2 separate regions of the Homo sapiens genome follow, and region 1 is linked to region 2. The links come from fine-mapping of genetic effects on gene expression. A gene starts in region 2. The other region holds a variant in brackets. All regions are shown on one strand. Distances are between the middles of the regions.

Region 1 (2,899 bases), 30 kb after region 2:
TGTGAGGCGGGGAGTGGCTGTTGGGATGTTGTTGGAGTTGGCGTGGTGATGACAGTGATGATCAGAGATGCTGTTGGTGATGTTGGTGACAGTGATGGGGGTGACGGCAATGGGGACATCAGGATAGGATGGTGATAAGGAATATCATGTGGATGGTGGTGATGACACAAGAACCCCCGATTCTGGGGTTCAAAGACCAGTCCCTTCTGCAGGAGAGCAGGCCCACTCTCTCTCACTCCCTGAGGCCCAGGACCCACCGTCTCAGAAGCAGGCAGGCGGAGACCCACCATCTGAGATTTTCAGGGAGGTAAAGGTTATAGAGAAAGGACCCAGCCGTCAGTGAGCACACACCCGTGCCAGCCAGAGTGTGGACACTTTCCTATCCGTTTACTTCATTGGCTCCTCCTACCAAATGTGCGAGCCCAGGACAGAGGCTGCACAAGAAGACAGGCCCGGGCTTGTCTTCAACCCTTCCCAACAGACAATGCAGTTTGCCATATGGGTCCCAAGTGCCAGAGCCCTCCCTTGCCCCTCCCCCTCAGGGCTGCTCCACCCTGACCCTGTGTCCTACAGCCTCACACTTCTGCCATCATCATTATTATTATGGCCCCTCCCTGAAGCTCAGTCCCCTCAACCTCACCTGCCCACCCTGATTTCCCTGGGTTGCCTGGGAGGAGGATGTGAGAAGGGAGTCAGATGTGTCACCATCAAGAGGAAGCTCCCCTTCCCCACCCTGTGCTTCTGGTCAGAGCTTATGAGGGCTCAGTGGGGGCCAGCCCCCCAAGAGCACTATCTCCCCAACCACCTCTCCAGCCAGCCCAGATACCACCAGACGCCCCCATTCCTGGGGCCACGCACTCCGCAGCAGCCCGGCCTGGCTGCCTGCAGCTCCCCAGAGCCTGGCTTCTCTCTCCTCTTCACTCTTCCGCAGTTCTCGTCCTCACCCGCCGCCTCCACCTCATCCCCTCCTCCCTCCACTGGGCTCTGGGGCTCACAGACCTCAGTGAGAACCCCAGTGCAGCCGCTGATCCCCTGTGGGATCCTGGCCTGGCCATGTTACTTCATCTGTAACATTTCCTCATCTGTAGAAGGGAGAGAAGAATCCATCCACCTCCTGGAGTGGGTGTGAGAAGTAAATCATTGAAGACAGTGATTCAGAAAGATCAACTGAGCAGCACAGGTGCCTGTGTGTGGACACCCAGCACGGAGCCTGGTGGCCATGGCTGCCTTATTTGTAACAGCCCCAAGCTGGAATCAATCCAAATGTTATTTTGCAGGAAAACAGGCAAATGCATTGTGGTAGATTCAT[A/T]CAATGGAGTATACACAGCAATGGAAAAAATGAGTTAGCTACCCGCAACCACACAGACGAAGCTCCCAAACATAACGTTGGGAGAAAGAAGTGCTCACAAAAGAACACGCGCTGCAGAATTTCATTTCTACGTAATTCTACAGATGTATGTATTATAGAACTACATAGACAGGCAGAAGTCAGTGGGGGCGGGGCAGTGGCGAGGCGGGGGCTCTAGGGGCCTCTGGGTGCTGGTCTGATTTCTTAGTTTGGGTGGAGGTCACATGGGTGTGTTCACCTTGTAGAAGCCCACCAAGGTGTGCACTTAAGATAGCTGTGCTTTTCTATAGGTAAATTATACATCAAGAAAAGGTTTGCAAAAATCAAATAGAGATTGGCTGGCACCTCCTGTGCCAGGTTCCACGGGATCATGAAGATGAATCAGGCTGGGTCAAGACCCAAACGAGCATCCAGGCCAGAGGGCACGACTCCCAGGGACCCAGCACACAGGGCTCTGGGTCAACACCCAGAGCTCAGGGTCCAACCGTAGGGGTCAGGGCGGGCTTCTCAGAGGAGGTGGATCTTGAAGAAGATTCCCCGAAAGAGCAATGGAAAAAGTGTTCCAGGCAGAGGAAAGGGCATGAGCAGAGGCCAGTGTGCATGAGACGCATTCAGGAAACGGCAAGACGTTCCTCTTAGTAAACTGTGATTTGGCGTCATCCATGTGCTGAATACGCAGCAGGCCTCAGTAAATGGCAGCAGTTGGCTGGGGGAACACACGGATCCACCGGTTTGGCAGGGGTGGGGCCTCTGGGGTTAGAGAGAAAGGGGAAAGAGCATGCAGGAGATGTGACGGCTCATGCAAAACCTAGAGAACCTAGACTCGGACGGCTCAGATGGCGCTGGAGGAGGTTGTCACCTGCAGCACAGGAAGTGCTGTGACTGGGCGCTAGCAGCTAACTTTGCCCCAAAGGCAAACAGTACCAGTGAATCCCAGCAGCAGAGATATTCTGGCTGGTGGTAGCTTATCAAATCTCCCTTTAGGAGCAGCCAGTGGGGGGCTCAGAGTTGGCCTCCAGGTATGACACAAGGCCCTGTCATTCTCCACTTCCTAGATATCTGGGGAAGCACCCTCCACTCCCCAAACGATTCCCTAAAACCATCACTTCTCCCTTTATCTTCAGAGCAAAGACCCACAATAGTGATAATAAGTATTGATACTATTATTGTTGTGCATTTATTAGACGCCAGGTCCTCTTCTGAACTTATACAGTCGGCCCTCTGTATCACGGGCTCTGCATCTGAGTATTTTCAATCTGCAATCCACGATGTGGAACCTGCGGATAGGGAGGGCCGACTGACCATACACTCTCTCGTGTCAACCTCGCGCCAGTCTTGAGAGACAGGTTCTAACATGAGTCCCATATTTTTCTGATTTTGCAGGTAAAATTGAAATCAGCTCTTTACACATGGGCTCTGTGCTTCTCAGAACAAGGCTCTGGGGATGGCAGAGCTGACCCCCTCCCCCATCCCATGGCTGCCAGGAAGGCTGCCTTCCCTGCCTCCACCTGGAGCAGACACCTGGGCTCGGGTTCTTTATCTAACACAGGC
Region 2 (2,899 bases):
CCTGCGGGTCACATCCCAAAGACCCACACACACACCTCCCCTCCGAGAAGGGCTCTGAACCTTCTCCTGCCAGTGCCCAGGCCTCTCAGACTCTCCCGCATCACAGAAAACTCTGGCACCCAAAACTCACGACACAGAAACATGTGTAGGTTTTCTGGGAGCTCTCCTTCCTGAGCTCTGGGCCCTCCTTGGTCCCTGCCAGGATTCTGCCACATAAAAGGGCTCTGTTGTTTTTTGTGTGTGCGGTTTTTTTTTTTGTTTTGTTTTTTTTTTGAGACGGAGTCGTCTCGCTCTGTCGCCCAGGCTGGAGTGCAGTGGCACGATCTCGGCTCACTGCAAGCTCCGCTTCCCGGGTTCACGCCGTTTTCCTGGCGCAGCCTCCCGAGTAGCTGGGACTACAGGCGCCCGCAACAACGCCCGGCTAATTTTTTGTATTTTTAGTAGAGACCGGTTTCACCATGTTGGCCAGGATGGTCTCGATCTCCTGACTTCGTGATCCGCCCGCCTCGGCCTCTCAAAGTGCTGGGATTACAGGCGTGAGCCACCGCGCCCGGCCATAAAAGGACTCTTAACATCGCCTCTCCCCAACTCCCTTAACCTGGGGCTGGAGACCCTCCTCCGTTATCAGGCTCCGCCCCAGCTACGGCCCCACCCCTGGTGCTGGCACCACCTCAGTCTAATCCAGGTTCCACCCCCAATCCACCTAAGCCGTGTCCCTAGCCCTGGCCCCGCCCTGATGTTGCCGTGTAACTCAGTTCCCGCCGTTTTATAGGCTACCGCCCCAGCCAGGCCCCGCCCTCTGATGTGGCCCCGCCCCCCGACGCTGACTTTTTCTGTCTTCACTTTAGCGCTGGCTCCGCCCCTAGCCTTGGCCCGCCTCAGCGCGGACTCTCAGTCTCTGCGCCTGCCACGGCCTCGTCCCGCTCAGCCCTGGCCCTGCCCCTGGAGCCGACTCTCTCCGCCTCCGCCCCGGTCCCGCCCTGGCACTGACTGTCTCCGTCTTCGCCCCTGCCCTGGCCCCGCCCCCTGCCTGCTCTGGCCCCGCCCCGCCGCTCTCTCCGTCTCCGCCCCTGCCCTGGCCCCACCCTTGCCCCGCCCCGGCGCTGACTCTCTCCGTCTCCGCCTCCGCCCCCGGCTCCTCCCCGGCCCCGCCCCGGCACTGACATTCTATCTCTCTCCCGTCTCCGCCTCTGCCCCCCCCCCGGCCCCGCCCCTGCCCTGCGCCGGCGCTGGCTCCGTCTGCGCCTCAGCCTCGGTCCCGCCTCCAGCCCTGGCCCCGCCCCGCCGCTCTCCCCTTCTCCGCCCCTGCCCTGGCTCCGCCCCCGCCTGCCCGCGCACCGCAGAAGGCCTCCTGGAACTTCCTGGACAGCTTCTCGATGACGCTGTAGCTCTCCACGTAATCGACGTGTTCGTCCTGCGGCTCGCTGGCGATCTGCCGCAGCGTGGCCTTGTCCACGCTGCCCACTCCGATGGCGAACAGCTCGACGCCGCTGGCCCGGGCCCGCGCAGACACGTCCTGCACGCTGTCCTGGGGCCTCCCGTCTGTCACCACGATGACCACCTGCGACACGCGGGGCGGTGTGACACCGGGCTCCCGGAAGCCCACGGGACTGTCCAGGAGAGGAGGCTGAGGCCCGGAGAGGCGGGAGGACTGCCGGGTCGCACAGCCAGGCGGCACCCGGGGGAAGAGGACCCGGCTGGCCGAAGAGGAGACCCGTTTCCTCTGACTGAGAGACGTGGCTGGGGGGCTTTCCATCTGCTTCGCCTCCCTCGGGCAGGCAGCTCTGAGATGCCCGGAGGGATGTGATGCCCCATCGCCAAATTGGGGTCTCTAAGGTCAGGGCCATGCCTTCCCCTCAGACTGAGGCGGCTGAGGGCAGGGTCCTCAGGCTGATGGCTGTGGGAGTCGTGCCACGCCCCTCGTGCCCCCGGGAGGCCCGGCCGGGGCTGGGTGGGGGGATCCGGTGGTTCCACATGGTGCAGTTCTGCGCTTTGGCCACCAGATGGCAGCCGAAGCTAAGGGATGGGGCTGCCGTCTCCCGTCTTGCTGTCCTTGTCCCGGTAAGACCGGGGACCCTGGACCAGGGAACCGACGGAGGGCCACTCCCATGTGGATGCCCAAGGGACCAACCCAAGAAAGATGCCGCCCTTATCCTCCTCCACTCCCCGGTATGATACATGCCCCTGCCAGAGAGGGAAAGAATCTGCCTGCTCCCCTCCCACTAGGCTCCTCTGGTCTGTACCCTGGAAAGAAAGAGGTGGCGGACTCTGTCACTGAGATCCGGCTTCGTGACCCCCTGTCTGCACCCGCCCTGAGGCTAGGGCGCTCCCAGCTCTGCCCAGTCTGGGTTAGGCATCCAGTCCCGCTTTGCTGCTTCTCTGCTTCTGACTTGGGTCTGTTTCTGATTCCTGGGTCCCATCCTTAGCCCCAGGTCCTGACACCCTGTCCTGATGACAGGCAGTTGAGACAGGCCGTGTTTAGAAATGCAGCTCCACAAGCTACAGGTCACCTTCCTGAGCCTCAGTGTCTTCAACTGTAAAAAGGGTTGTGGTGAGGTTGAGTGAGATGACTCCTGGTTAGAAGCCAGAAGGGGCAACTATTATTTTTACCATCATTACCCTGGGCTACCTGGGGAGTGACTTTGTACAATCTCTTCCTCTCCAGGGGCCTGGGCTCCTGGCTCTGAAAATCTAGCTGTGACTATTCGCTGCCATCCCGAGGCCCACTGCCTCCTCGAGTCCCTACTCCCCTCCCTGCAACCCAGCTTTCAGATTGTCCACCTTGCTGGGTCCTCCCACAGGTGAACTCCAGGCTGAACACCTGGAGTCTGGTGCCAGCTCCCCCAGCGCCGCTGTGTCACCTGCTGGAGGAGCTCTCTCCTCACTTGCCCACCCCACG

Which allele goes with the higher level. Alleles are on the strand shown, and positions count from the first base shown. SD is a standard deviation of normalised expression in the study named.
As copies of A replace T in region 1, the expression in spinal cord of the gene that starts at base 1,376 in region 2 goes up (moderate effect, 0.44 SD a copy in GTEx).

What was found. PIP is the estimated chance that this variant, and not a neighbour inherited with it, causes the effect.
Region 1: its variant is fine-mapped to the expression of MATN1-AS1 in spinal cord (GTEx, PIP above 0.99). The same link has a PIP of 0.9 or more in amygdala, caudate, cerebral cortex, hippocampus, prefrontal cortex and putamen.

Annotation. Positions count from the first base shown.
Region 1 is chr1:30,747,835-30,750,733 of GRCh38, forward strand. All of the region lies in intron 1 of LAPTM5 (lysosomal protein transmembrane 5), which reads right to left. It overlaps LOC105378620 (a long non-coding RNA gene), which reads right to left. Exons shown (of 2, transcript XR_007065566.1): 1 at 2,510-2,899; 2 at 1-2,098. Among named protein-coding and RNA genes, the nearest start is that of LAPTM5, 8.5 kb to the right of the region's middle. RefSeq lists enhancers at 296-605, 926-1,105, 2,034-2,113, 2,214-2,263, 2,670-2,899. The variant A/T (reference allele first, on the strand shown) is at 1,310.
Region 2 is chr1:30,717,397-30,720,295 of GRCh38, forward strand. It overlaps MATN1-AS1 (MATN1 antisense RNA 1), which reads left to right and starts at 1,376. Exons shown (of 4, transcript NR_034182.1): 1 at 1,376-2,169. MATN1 (matrilin 1) reads right to left here. Exons shown (of 8, transcript NM_002379.3): 3 at 1,339-1,561. RefSeq lists silencers at 599-778, 819-1,338, 1,899-1,988 and enhancers at 1,399-1,568, 1,666-2,241.